3 linked regions of the Homo sapiens genome follow. The protein of the gene in region 3 purifies or fractionates together with the protein of the main gene of each other region. This does not show direct contact. Each region holds a gene or a part of one and is shown on either strand. Other genes may lie near its edges.

Evidence for each region. Proteins that work in one complex are often made in the same cells at the same time.
Region 1: the proteins of DNAJB7 (region 3) and ASPM purify together in Homo sapiens (affinity purification with mass spectrometry; one large-scale study listed by BioGRID and IntAct). This does not show direct contact.
Region 2: the proteins of DNAJB7 (region 3) and CMAS purify together in Homo sapiens (affinity purification with mass spectrometry, with the first as the bait; one large-scale study listed by BioGRID). This does not show direct contact.

Annotation. Positions count from the first base shown.
Region 1 is NC_000001.11:197,083,166-197,087,754, reverse strand, and holds the end of ASPM (abnormal spindle-like microcephaly-associated protein), read left to right. Parts: intron 1-782; coding exon 783-952; intron 953-3,328; coding exon 3,329-3,431; 3' UTR 3,432-3,628; downstream 3,629-4,589. UniProt on the Homo sapiens protein: Involved in mitotic spindle regulation and coordination of mitotic processes.
Region 2 is NC_000012.12:22,059,633-22,063,678, forward strand, and holds part of CMAS (N-acylneuraminate cytidylyltransferase), read left to right. Parts: intron 1-1,199; coding exon 1,200-1,294; intron 1,295-1,648; coding exon 1,649-1,820; intron 1,821-2,648; coding exon 2,649-2,802; intron 2,803-4,046. UniProt on the Homo sapiens protein: Catalyzes the activation of N-acetylneuraminic acid (NeuNAc) to cytidine 5'-monophosphate N-acetylneuraminic acid (CMP-NeuNAc), a substrate required for the addition of sialic acid.
Region 3 is NC_000022.11:40,859,141-40,863,867, reverse strand, and holds DNAJB7 (dnaJ homolog subfamily B member 7), read left to right. Parts: upstream 1-1,754; 5' UTR 1,755-1,873; coding exon 1,874-2,803; 3' UTR 2,804-3,086; coding exon of another isoform or gene 3,087-3,190; 3' UTR 3,191-4,319; downstream 4,320-4,727. UniProt on the Homo sapiens protein: Probably acts as a co-chaperone.

The sequences.
Region 1 (4,589 bases), on a different chromosome or scaffold from region 3:
ATTGAAGAATGAATTTGGGAGAGCATGTGTGGATATAGTGAGACCATCAAAGAAGGTGGCAAGTGTTGATATGTAGTGATCTAGGCAAGAGATTGTGCTTGTCTTAGGATTGTGTCGCTGAGAGGTAAGTAGAAGACTTTGGAAACTGCAGAGGTAAACTTTTCAAGACTTGGTAACTGGATATGATAGGTGTGTTGACTATAATTGCTATGTTGACTATAATAATTCCTTCTTATATTCAGTGTGGAGTTAAGTATGCAACTTTTGAATATTTATCTTCCTTATAATTGCCTTGCAAATTAGCTCGTAATTTAAATCAATCTACCTGCCAAACTTGGTGAGGTTTCTTTGATTATTCAAAGCTTAAAAGTTTACTGCAGGCTGGGCACGGTGGCTCACGCCTGTAATCCCAGCACTTTGGGAGGCTGAGGTAGGCAGATCACGAGGTCAGGAGATTGAGACCATCCTGGCTCACACGGTGAAACTCCATCTCTACTAAAAATACAAAAAAAATTAGCCGGGTGTGGTGGCGGGTGCCTGTAATCCCAGCTACTTGGGAGACTGAGGCAGGAGAATGGCGTGAACCCGGGAGGCAGAGATTGCATTGAGCTAAGATCGCACCACTGCACTTCAGCCTGGGCGACAGAGCAAGAGAGACCATCTCAAAAAAGAAAAAAAAAAGGTTTACTGCATAGTTTTTATTATATTTGATTTTGCTAGTCTAAAAGAGATAAAATTTTAATTCTTATTACTTTTTAGTAACTGTGCATTTTATTTTGTAGGATGTACGAAGTAGGTCCAAAGTTGTTGACCGTATTTACAGTCTCTACAAACTTACAGCTCATAAACATAAAATGAATACTGAAAGAATACTTTACAAGCAAAAGAAGAATTCTTCTATAAGCATTCCTTTTATCCCAGAAACACCTGTAAGGACCAGAATAGTTTCAAGGTAAGCAATTAAATATAGTCCATAAATTTGTGTCACTGTTCATTCATTCATTTAACAAATATTTATTGAGCACTTACCATAAACAAGATGTGCTTTTCAGTGGAGAAACAACATATGAATAAGAATGGAATGTTTGGTAAATTTAAAAGAAGCAGTCTTGGTAAATAAAGAAATAACATTATACTGTAGCTTTGGACATTTAATAGTTATTCAACAAACTTCTTATATTAAATAGTTAAGAGCTAAGGCTAAGAAGCTTGTTATAAGTTTTGTCATTTTATTTTATTTATTTTATTTTGCATGAAAGACAAACTACACTGTTTAAGAAGTGCCAAAAGTCCTTCTTAGCCAAAATATCAACCTCCAGTCCTCCCATAATCACCCTGATTCTTGAAATTTCTCCTTCTGGAAATTTAGATTGACATTTTCTGATTTTATTGGCAAAAAGATTTAATTTATTTTGGTGAACCGTCATGGCATTTAATTAGTGTTTTTACTCCCTTCCTTCTTTCTCCCTCCTCCTTTTTTTCTTCCCCCTTCTCCCTCTCTCCCTCCCTTCCTTCCTTCTTTCCTTCTTGAGACTTAGCAATTCTCTATACTAGGTACAAATCCTACATTATTGACAACACACTATTTCTTGACCTGAGTGGTTACACAGCCATTAGCTTTATAATTATACTCATAATTATAAACTGTATAATGTAGTTATAAATTGGTTTTATGCATGCATATTTCACAGCATAATGTAAAGTTCATTTGCTTGAAATATATTAATGGGACCATTTCTACATGTTTTTTAAGGACTTGGTAGAATTTAATATTCATTATGTTTTAAAAGCTCATACTAACATATGAATGGATTCTCTTAAAATTTTGATGTAGGTCAGGCTTTTGAGGTAAAATTTACTGACAGTATAAATGCATCCTTTAAATGTATGCAATTCAATTCGTTTTGACAAATGTATACAGTTAGGAAACTACCACCACTGAGATACAAAATATTTCTGTAACACAAAGTTTCCTTATGCCCCTTTGTTGTCAGTTCTCTTTCTTTATTCCCTGGATTTTGGGAACTACTGATCTGATTTTTGTACCTTTAGTTTTGCCATTTCTATACTGTCACATATATGGAATCATATAGTAGATAGCTTTTTGTGACTGGATTCTTTTCCTTAGCATAATGCTTTTGAAATTCGTTCATGTTTATGCATGGATTTGAATTTCATTCCTTTCTATCACTTAGTACTATTCCATTGTATGGTCGTACCACACTTTGTTCACTCACCAATTGATATATCTTTGGATTTTTAGCAGGACAAAATAAGATGATGGAAATGCATATAGTAGGGAATTATGTGAGAAGATGCATGAACTCCCTCGGTTTGATACTATTTTCTCAATAAGTTTGAGATTATAAACTCAACAACTCAGAAGCAGCTCAGAGGGTATGGAGGGGAAGTTTGAAAAGAGGAAAGGACCAAGATAGTCATCTTGGAGAGAAAGGGAGCATGCTGGCAATTTCAAATGCTCATTTTAGATTTGTAATTATTGGCAAAAAATAAAATCAGCTTGGTTGTGTAAACATTTTTAGTAATATGCAGCTGTATAGGAATGGAGAAGGCAGATATTTTGACTCAATTTGAAATCCAAGTAGAATTCTTCAGACTAGTTTGGTAGGAGAGAGAGACAACAGTTAATGGCATTTGCAAAGGTTTTGATAATACTGATGCACCTGAGCTAGATACACAGGAAAGTAAGGACAGCATTCTGGTGGATGTTGGGTATGTGTTGAGGCCAAATGAAGTGGAGATCTCAGTGGGGTAGAAGAACTGGTTCAATGACTGTGTTAGAGCATATGACATGGATGAATCAGAAATGGTGGATGGAGAATGGAAGTCTCAAGATTTCAGTGGTCGCACACTTTCTGATGATGACAAAGTCTAGTATGTGATCATATTAAAAAGGATTGGTTGAGGTAGAATTGAAGGAAAGTGGGGCAAAAACGGACTAGGTTGTTGGCTTTTTGGCCACATAGATGTTGCTGTTGCTGAGAACGGTGACAGTAGGTAAGAGGAGAACAAGAACCAGGTTTACAAGGAATAAGACACTGAGAGTTTGGCTGATGACCAAAAGGCAGTGGTCAAGCTAAATAGCATAAGCTTCAAAGAAGCCAGCATTATTTTTTAGAAAGGATGGAGAGAAATAGTCTGGAACTAGTGATGGGCAATAATATGAAGTTCTCCCACCTCTTTGAGCAGTTTGTAAGGGAAATGATGTGTTCAGGAGTAGCTACAATTTAGTTAAGAGAAAAAAGGTGAAGGTAACTCTAAAGAGAAGAACTTTATTAATGCCAGACTTTTTTTTTTTTTTTAACAGACTTAAGCCAGATTGGGTTTTGAGAAGAGATAACATGGAAGAAATCACAAATCCCCTGCAAGCTATTCAAATGGTGATGGATACGCTTGGCATTCCTTATTAGTAAATGTAAACATTTTCAGTATGTATAGTGTAAAGAAATATTAAAGCCAATCATGAGTACGTAAAGTGATTTTTGCTCTCCGTGTACAACTTTTAAAATCTGACTTTGTTTTAAAAAAACATAAACTGTTCATTACATTCTTCATTTTTATCATTTATAGTTTTATGCATGTAATAAACTAATATGTCATAAGATGATTATATTATTCCTGTCTATTATCTTAAAGTATTATAGTAGTTTCAATGTAATCTTATTACTAAAAGGAAATAATAGCTGATTACACCTTTTTTATAGGTAAGTTGAGGAATTTTCATAAAACAAATGTTAGAAATTGAAGTTCTGTCTACTCACTAAGAAGTGAGACTAGGATAAAATAATCTCACAAATTCATATCAATGGCATCCTTATCTATATCCTTGACTGGCTAAAGCATCCAGATAAGCAAGTGAGCCCTTCTAGGCTCACAAAAAGAATACACCCACCACTGTATTTACTAAAAATTCTTACCATTGAACTGATGGGGGTTATAATTTGAAGTGGAAGGAACATGCTATTGCTTATAATAGAATCTTGTTGTGTAGTTATACACCACAGACCTGAAAATGATTCAGTATTGAAATGTGATTTTTTTTCTACTCTTTGAGTCACTATTACTAGTATCTGTGGTTTCAGGGCCACAGATGTCTAATTCTTATGGCTGAAATCTGAATAGAGTCTCAAAGTCTGCCCATGGGAGTTAGAATCCCTGGGCTCATCCTTTTCTTTCATCACTTTGTTCAGTGAACTTAGGAGTATCAACTAACTTCATTATATTCCTTGGTTCTCCACATATGGTCAAAGGTATTATTTATAGAGACACTAAACTCCTTGCTTCTCAGGAGCAGTTAATAAGGAGTATCAAATGCATTTATTTTGCATAACTCTCTAAACAATTCACATAAAAAACTATCAGTGTTCTCCATACTATTAGAAATAGAGTCCTTAGCATTTTTGGATCTAATCAGATTAAACAGCCAACTCCAGAAACCCCAAAACCAGCTAAAGAAATCCATCCTTAAAACTCTGTTCCTCTAGAACAACTACTGGTACCAAAATCTGTATTAGTCAGGGCTCTCCAGAGGGAAAGAACTAATAGTATATATGTATACATGAAAGGAA
Region 2 (4,046 bases), on a different chromosome or scaffold from region 3:
AAAACATTTTTACAAATCTTCTGGTCAATGTGTAGGCAAACTATAGACTAGCTGTTTAGTTAAATTTAAGTGTTCAGAAAAATTGGATTTGACACACATAGATACTACCATTTTTAAGCTTTTTTCTAAGGAGGACCATGATTAACCCATTCCTAAAGTGTGGAGAAAAATGTTTCTCATTAAAACAAGGTTTATGAAGAGACTGACAATTCTGAAAAAAAAAATGAAATTGAAATTGTCCAGTAATTGATCTTGTCATTCAAATAATTACTATCAGAAGAAAGACCCTTTCTCTTGCTGACCCTTGCCTAGAATCAAGAGACTGCCCTTGCCTTTGCCTGCATGTGACTTGGATGACTATTAGTCATTTTCATCAGTAGCTCAGAGATCTAAGAAAACTCTGTACAACAGATGCTACAGTTATTTTTCCTCCCCTGTGTTGCCTGTTAGTTGCAAATTAGAACAGAAGTTCCAAAAACCTTAATACTGCTTTTGGATGATGACAGGAGAGACTTCTTGAAAAAAAGGAGGATATGATTAAGGGATTTCCACAAAATCCCTTGTGGTCAGAAACCTGGAGGATGTAATATTTCTGCTTTTTTCAATATTAAAATAGAAATTTTCTTAAATAGGGAACTTGAACTGTTTAGATAGAATTTGAAAAATGTTAAGGTTATTTCTTTTGTGTGAGCTTTCTCCTTAAAAAAAAAAAAAAAAAAAAAAAAAAAGCTGGGCGTGGTGGCTGAAGCATGTCATCCCAGCACTTTGAGAGGCCAGCTTGAGGCCTCAAGAGGATAGCTTGAGGCCAGGTTTCCAAGACCAGCCTTGGCAACATAGCAAGATCTTATATCTACAAAAAACTTTTTAAAAATTTAGCCGGACATGGTGCTGTATACCTGTAGTACCAGATCCTTAGGAGGCTGAGGTGGGAGGATTGCTTGAGCCTAAGATTTCAAGGTTATAATGAGCTATGATTGCACCATTGCACTCCAGCCTGGGAGGCAGAGTGAAACCCTGACTCGAAAAAATAAAAAAGTAAAAATAAATTTAAAAATCATTTTTATGTGACTGATTTTTACTGGGTTATTCATTTTTCTCAGTACTGTAGAAATGAATTCATTGTTCTGTATTATAATAAAGTTTTGATATATGTGAATGAATATTAAAAACAGTATTCATGACATTTATACTACCTTTAGGGTGGAAAAATGGCATACTACGAAATGCGAGCTGAACATAGTGTGGATATAGATGTGGATATTGATTGGCCTATTGCAGAGCAAAGAGTATTAAGGTAAAAACAAATAAACCTTTATAACCTTTGTACTAAATCTTAATAATTATATTTCTAGATACTGATTTCTGATACTTCAGACATCTTAGGATCTTTGTAATTACTTTGTTCATGTGAGGAAGACATGTAAAATATGTGTTTACATGGCTTCAATAAAGTGAGAAACATTATCTGGCTAGACCACACTACTTTTACTTACTGTACTATATGTTAAAATATATATGTGAAGTAAATTTGGAGAGTAATGTTTGAATAATTGAATGGAGGGTGACATTTCATGTATTGGTTTAGCCAGATGAGAGGGAGTGATTAGTACTGCACTTGTACTCAAAGGTCTATTTTGGTTTCTTTTAGATATGGCTATTTTGGCAAAGAGAAGCTTAAGGAAATAAAACTTTTGGTTTGCAATATTGATGGATGTCTCACCAATGGCCACATTTATGTATCAGGAGACCAAAAAGAAATAATATCTTATGATGTAAAAGATGCTATTGGGATAAGTTTATTAAAGAAAAGTGGTATTGAGGTATGTGCTCCCTGAATATAGCAGTATTTTATAATATTTTGATTCAGGGTCAAAGAACATGCAAGGAATTAAGAGATTTAAATTTTTAGTATTAACTCTTAAAATATCTGAAATTTGGCCTTCATACGCCTAGAAAATTATTATACTATTTAGTTTTAGATGAGTAGAATTAGGAATTTGTTAATCAGCAAATAATATTTCTTGTTTATTCAGTAAATATAAACATAACTACTTTTAAATGGGAGCTATCTAATGTTTCCCAAAGGATCTTGCAGCAAGAAAGATTCCCTAGATAATAGGTGTACCATTTTAGAAAAGGACGATATCCTGTGGATTTTTAAAATCTAGCTTATTCTTATGAATGACATTTTTGATTCAAAATAACTTAACGTTTAAGTGTATTTTTTTAAATGAAAGCTAGCTAAGATAATTATAATTTACCAGAAATCCTAAATATGTATTGCTAAGCAGCACAAGAGAGAGGTTATAGACTTTCCTCTGGATAAATTGAATTATAGGAGAATCTTAGAGTAGTATCAGACAATATATGTTGTAATTTTTACCTGTAGATAGAATCCTTTCTATTGTAGAAAATAAAATACTGTGTCTCACCTTTATTGGGCTATGAGAAATAAAATGAGCTTTGTTTTAAAGCATCATGATTTTAATTCGACAGTCAGTTTTCTTACTTGGACCTTCAGAAAGTCAAAAGATGACTCGTTTGTGATTTGGACTGTCTACAAGGTCAATTATTATGAAAGATTTCTGTTTTCTTCACTTTTTAATTTTTCCCTTCTTCCTCCAATCCTTTTTTTTTTTTTTTTTAAGGTGAGGCTAATCTCAGAAAGGGCCTGTTCAAAGCAGACGCTGTCTTCTTTAAAACTGGATTGCAAAATGGAAGTCAGTGTATCAGACAAGCTAGCAGTTGTAGATGAATGGAGAAAAGAAATGGGCCTGTGCTGGAAAGAAGTGGCATATCTTGGTTGGTATCTTTTTATTCACCCATAGTAAAATGGACCAGGAATTAATTATTTACTTATTTTTAAAGAAATGACAAAGCACATCCTCCAAATGGGTATGATTGTAGGGAAATAGGAACTCTTTTAACAAACACTGCTGATCAAACTGTTAAACTGGGACAGTCTTTCTGGAGGTTAGTTTGATAATAGGTATCAAATGTAGAATGATTATTAGCACAAGCTGTGAAGTCAGACTGTACCACTGATTAGCCAGTTGTGATAAGATGAATGTTGTTTCCTCATCTGTAAACTGGAGATATCGAGAGTACCTATTACCGTAGGGCTCTGGAAGGGATTAATAAAATAATATGAGTAAAGCACTTAGCAGAATTTCTAGTACATATGAATTACACTCTGAATAGTTTTTGCTGCTAATTGAATGTACATACTTTTTCCTCCAAATTCCAATTCCAGGAAAGAAATGAGACAAATGGGCCAATAGTGAAGTTAAAAGAACCCACTTAAATGTCCTGTGAAAAATAGAATATCCCTAAAAAGGATTACTATGCAACCATTACAAACAGTGCTGTGACCTGTATTTATTTGCATGATCAAATATAACAATGTTTTTCACTTGGATATTAAGCAATACACTTACTTACCAGGTACCTATGATGATACGCAGCATGGAACTGGTTGTGGGAACTGTAGGCTTTCTGCTTGCAGAGCTTACAGTCTGATGATGTCAACATTTTAAAATTGATAAGTTATTAAGATGCATAATAACTATAAATCATGTATGAAAGCAGTATTTACAAGGGTAATATGAGCCTCAAAATAAGAAGCACAGGAAAAACTTTGGGAGCATGTGATCTAGAGACTTCAGGAATAACCCTTAAACCACACATGAAGATTTAATGGACATAAATGCTGCAGAATGTTTGTTAAAGACAGATCCAATTTTTATTAGAAGAAAATTTTAGTGGAATGTATAACAAATTCCAACTATACTTATTATCTTTCTTTGGGATGTTAAGCAAGCTTCTGTATACCTTAGTTTTCTACTTAGAATATAAACACAAACCAAATTTTATAAAGCCATTAGAAAGAAAAACAAAGATAATATAAAATGCTTAACATAGTGCCTACAGATAGTAATAAGTGTATCATTTATATAGGTAAAACTCTAGAATTATATGTGTCAAAATGTAGTGATTATCTACAAATAGTGATAATTAGGATGATTGTGACTTTTTTGCTTCTATTT
Region 3 (4,727 bases):
TAGACTCAAGTTTAAAAATCAGATTTTTCACTAACAAGCTATGTAGCCTTAGACAAATTACTTTCTCTCTCAGAACGTCTGTTTTCTTATGGGCATAAAATATTTATTTTGCTAGAGTGCTGTGTCAGTTAAATGAGCACTTGCTACAGTGTGACTCAGAGGGTACTCAAATAATTTTCGACATTATTGGTTATTATTTCCAGTGGTAGGCAAATTATAATCATGGGTAAGCCACACATAAGTACATGTAAGCACATACACTGGAGAGAATTTAAATTGAGTTTTAAGCATTTCACAATACCTCTAAAAAATGAGTATATATAAAAATGCAAAGCAAAAAAATATTCAGACCTGACAAATGGTCTTGAAAGACTAGAAGCATACACTACAGTTTTAGATTTCATTAGCGTATCATTTAACTGAGGGGTTATAAATGTGATGGAAAATAAAATAAACACAACATAGAGGAGGAAAAACAAAGATTACAGGGAATTTTCTCAGACAATAAAATGAGCCAGGTATAGAATATAAGACCTTTAAATTCGGGTCTAGACTACTGGTAGTTTATCCCCAAAGAAAATCACCTTTGGTCTGTTTCTAATTTGGCTCTCGAATTCTACTTTCCCATACATGACTGAATTTCCAAATAGTAGCCACTGATCCATTACAAATGTAAATCACATCATTAAACTTGCATATTCCCCACTCCCCACAAAGGCTTCCCACTGTACTTGAAATAAGTGCTAGCTTTATGTCCAACAGCCCCAACTGGCAACAACCAAAATGTCCATCAACATGGCCAGTGGCTACCATATTAGATCACTATGTGGCTGACTGTCATATAGGTCTCAGCAATAATGTCATCTCCTCAGAAGCCTTCTAAAACCAATCTAAAGTAGCGCTCTGCCCCCAGCACATTGCTATTTTTTTTGGAGCACATATCGCATTATCTTAAATTATTTTATTTGTTCTCCTATTTGTATTCTATTATAATGCAAGCACCAGGAAAACTGGTGTCTTTTGTTCAATACTGCTATCACCAGTGGCTAAAACGGTGCCTGGCACAAAGTAGACAATCAATAATTATACAGTGAATACATAAACACACAACTTTCCAAATCTTTAATTACATGTTTTACAGCAGTAAACCTTGGGTGGACAAAGATACTATAATCTCAAATGACTTACCACTGGCATGCAGAAAGTTAACATATCAGGCTACTTCCTCCAAGAGGCTTTCATTGACACCCCCAGCCTGAGCTGTCTCTCATATAATTGTTTAGCATCCAGTACTTCCTCTCATCATAACTATTATATTGTAACTAAGTTACTTGTTTGTATCTCCCTCTGAACTGTTTCTTGACTGAAATAAATATGTCAACTGTTTGAATACTTTCTTCACCCGTAAGTCAGTACTTCATTTTTCTAAACCAAAGCATAGAAGAGCTGGGAAGCAATTAAGGCGCAGTAATCTAGAGGTCATATTATGCAAGGGATATGCTGTGGCTATTAGCAACAGATTCCATTGGCTTATGAGGCACTGCCTGAAGCTTCCAGGGAAACATACAGGGGAAACAGTCCAGAGGATTCAGGATGGTCTGGTACGACTCTGGACTAGCTCTATTTGGAAGGTCCAGTCCCTACACTGACCCCAGAATGACACCATAATGCAGCCCTCTCTGACATATTTGTAACTCTGCTTGCCACATAATCAGTATCCTCATCTCTTAGCACATGGTAATAACATTGTCTTTAACATAAAAGTGTACCTATTTGCAGTCACTACCTCTATCACCACCACCAGCAGAGCCTGAGCTGAGGAAACCACGGTTCTCAATACCCAGCACACCCACTTCCAACTATCTGTTAAAACATGGTGGATTACTATGAAGTTCTAGGACTGCAAAGATATGCTTCACCTGAGGACATTAAAAAAGCTTATCATAAAGTGGCACTTAAATGGCACCCTGATAAAAATCCAGAAAATAAAGAAGAAGCAGAGAGAAAATTCAAAGAAGTAGCTGAGGCATACGAGGTATTATCAAATGATGAGAAACGGGACATTTATGATAAATATGGCACAGAAGGATTAAACGGAGGTGGAAGTCATTTTGATGATGAATGTGAGTACGGCTTCACATTCCATAAGCCAGATGATGTTTTTAAAGAAATTTTTCATGAAAGGGATCCATTTTCTTTTCACTTCTTTGAAGACTCGCTTGAGGACCTGTTAAATCGTCCAGGAAGCTCCTATGGAAACAGAAACAGAGATGCAGGATACTTTTTCTCCACTGCCAGTGAATATCCAATTTTTGAGAAATTTTCTTCATATGATACAGGATATACATCACAGGGTTCATTGGGGCATGAAGGCCTTACTTCTTTCTCTTCCCTGGCTTTTGATAATAGTGGGATGGACAACTACATATCTGTTACAACTTCAGACAAAATCGTTAATGGCAGAAATATTAATACAAAGAAAATTATTGAAAGTGATCAAGAAAGAGAAGCTGAAGATAATGGAGAGTTGACATTTTTTCTTGTAAATAGTGTGGCCAATGAAGAGGGCTTTGCAAAAGAATGCAGCTGGAGAACACAGTCATTCAACAACTATTCACCAAATTCTCACAGCTCCAAACATGTATCTCAATATACTTTCGTGGACAATGATGAGGGAGGTATATCTTGGGTTACCAGCAACAGAGATCCCCCTATTTTCTCAGCAGGAGTCAAAGAGGGTGGTAAGAGGAAAAAAAAGAAGCGTAAAGAGGTGCAAAAGAAGTCTACCAAAAGGAATTGTTAAATTGACTCTTCAAATATATAACATTTGAACACAATTGTGTGTGTTTTGGTTAATCACAAATTTTGTAGATAACACTTAATACTATACTAAGAGCTTTTCAACACTTTTAGCAGGATTGTGGACATTTGGTTAGTAGTTTTTTTGAATGGGTATGTCAGAAAAGGATGAGTTTGTGGTGACAGTTGGTGCTAATAAGAATTTGCCTGGGCAGTATAGTGAGATCTTTTCTCTACAAAAAATTTAAAAATTAGCCAAGTGTGGTGGTGTGCACCTGTAGTCCCAGCTACTCGGGAAGCTGGTAGAAAGACTGCTTGAGCCTGGAAGACATAGGTTGCAGTGTAATGGGATCACGCCACTGCACTCCAGCTTGGGTGACAAAGTAAGACCCTGTCTTAAAAAAAAAAAAAAGGAATTTGGAAAACTGCAATGAGTTTTTTACTTTTGAATTTTTCTTTAGTAGAGTTTATAGCCTATTTTTCTTTTTTCTAATTAAAACCACTATACAAACTTACGAAACATGCATAGCATTAGAAGACAAGAATGTATCAAGACACACAGGTTCAGACTACACAATTATTCATGAAATGGCTGTTTTCCAATGGAGGAACAGCATTTGATGCATTATAACTTAAAGGTACTACAAATTAAAAATTAAAGTATAAAGTATTTTAAGTTAGAAATAGACTTAGCTGGGTGCAGTGGCTCACACCTGTAATCCTAGCATCTTGGGAGGCCCAGGCAGGAGGGTTGAAGTCAGAATTTCACGACAGTCCGGGTAACATAATGAGACCTGTCCTCTATGAAAAAACTTTTTTAAAAATTTAGCTGGGTGTGGTGGTACGTGCCTGTAGGCCTAGCTACTTAGGAGGCTGAGGTGGGAGGATTGCTTGAGCCCAGGAGTTTGAGGTTGTAGGGAGCTATGATCTTGCCATTGCACTCCAGCTGAGAGTGTGACCCTGTCTCTAAAGAAAAACTATAGAAAATTTAAAAAATTAAAAAACGGGTAACATGGTAAATTTTATGTAGTATATTTTACCACATTTTTTTTAAAGGCCAGTCTTATCCTGAATTCCTCAGAGCAGTCTGTATGGTAGGCCATCAGTGAATCACTCCAGACAGGAAATTTTCTATTTTTGTTTAGAGTTTGTACACAAAATCTACAAATACATTACTCTAAAATAGCACCTATAGCCATTTTAATTTAGTCATGTTGGGAGAAAAATAGATGGGTTACAAATACATCAGATATCGAGCAAATGGTTTGAGTTACATCTAGCAGCACTAAAACTTATTCAACTTTGGCCAAATACAAATGCGAAATTAGAAAAAAATTATAATATCTGCTATTTTTAAAAGACAGCTATAGTCAAGAGCTTGTGTTTTGTATCGGTATTTGATTTTTAGTGGGCAGATGGGAGAAGGAAAGGTTATTTATTCTATAGAAGAGACTGCGGACAATTAGTATTCAAAGTTTATTTTCAGAAAATAAAATAATAAAAGCCCAGGGTATTTTAAATGCTTCTAATATAAGATGTGATATTTAGTAGAGTTTATCTGTTATCATGCATGTGGTAGTAAAGTTGAAAAAAAAATTGCAATTTTCCAAAAACTAAAGCAAAAATCAGTGTCTCAGAAAATTTAAGAATGTAATGACATGCCCTGTAGTCCATTTCTTCACTCTTAACAGAAAACCAAAAATTTAGATTTAATCATCTTACTCAATAGCTTAAAATTCCTCAAAGTTTTCCCACCATCTAAAGGAAAAAGCTAATTGTTTGCTTAACATAATATACAAGGCCCTCCACGAGCCAGCCACCAGCTTTTTTCCCAACTTGATTTCCTATCAGCTCCTTGTACTCATCTTATGCTCTAGCCCAACTTCTCCCAAAATCTGTTCCAGGGATACCAGTTCAAGATTCATCAC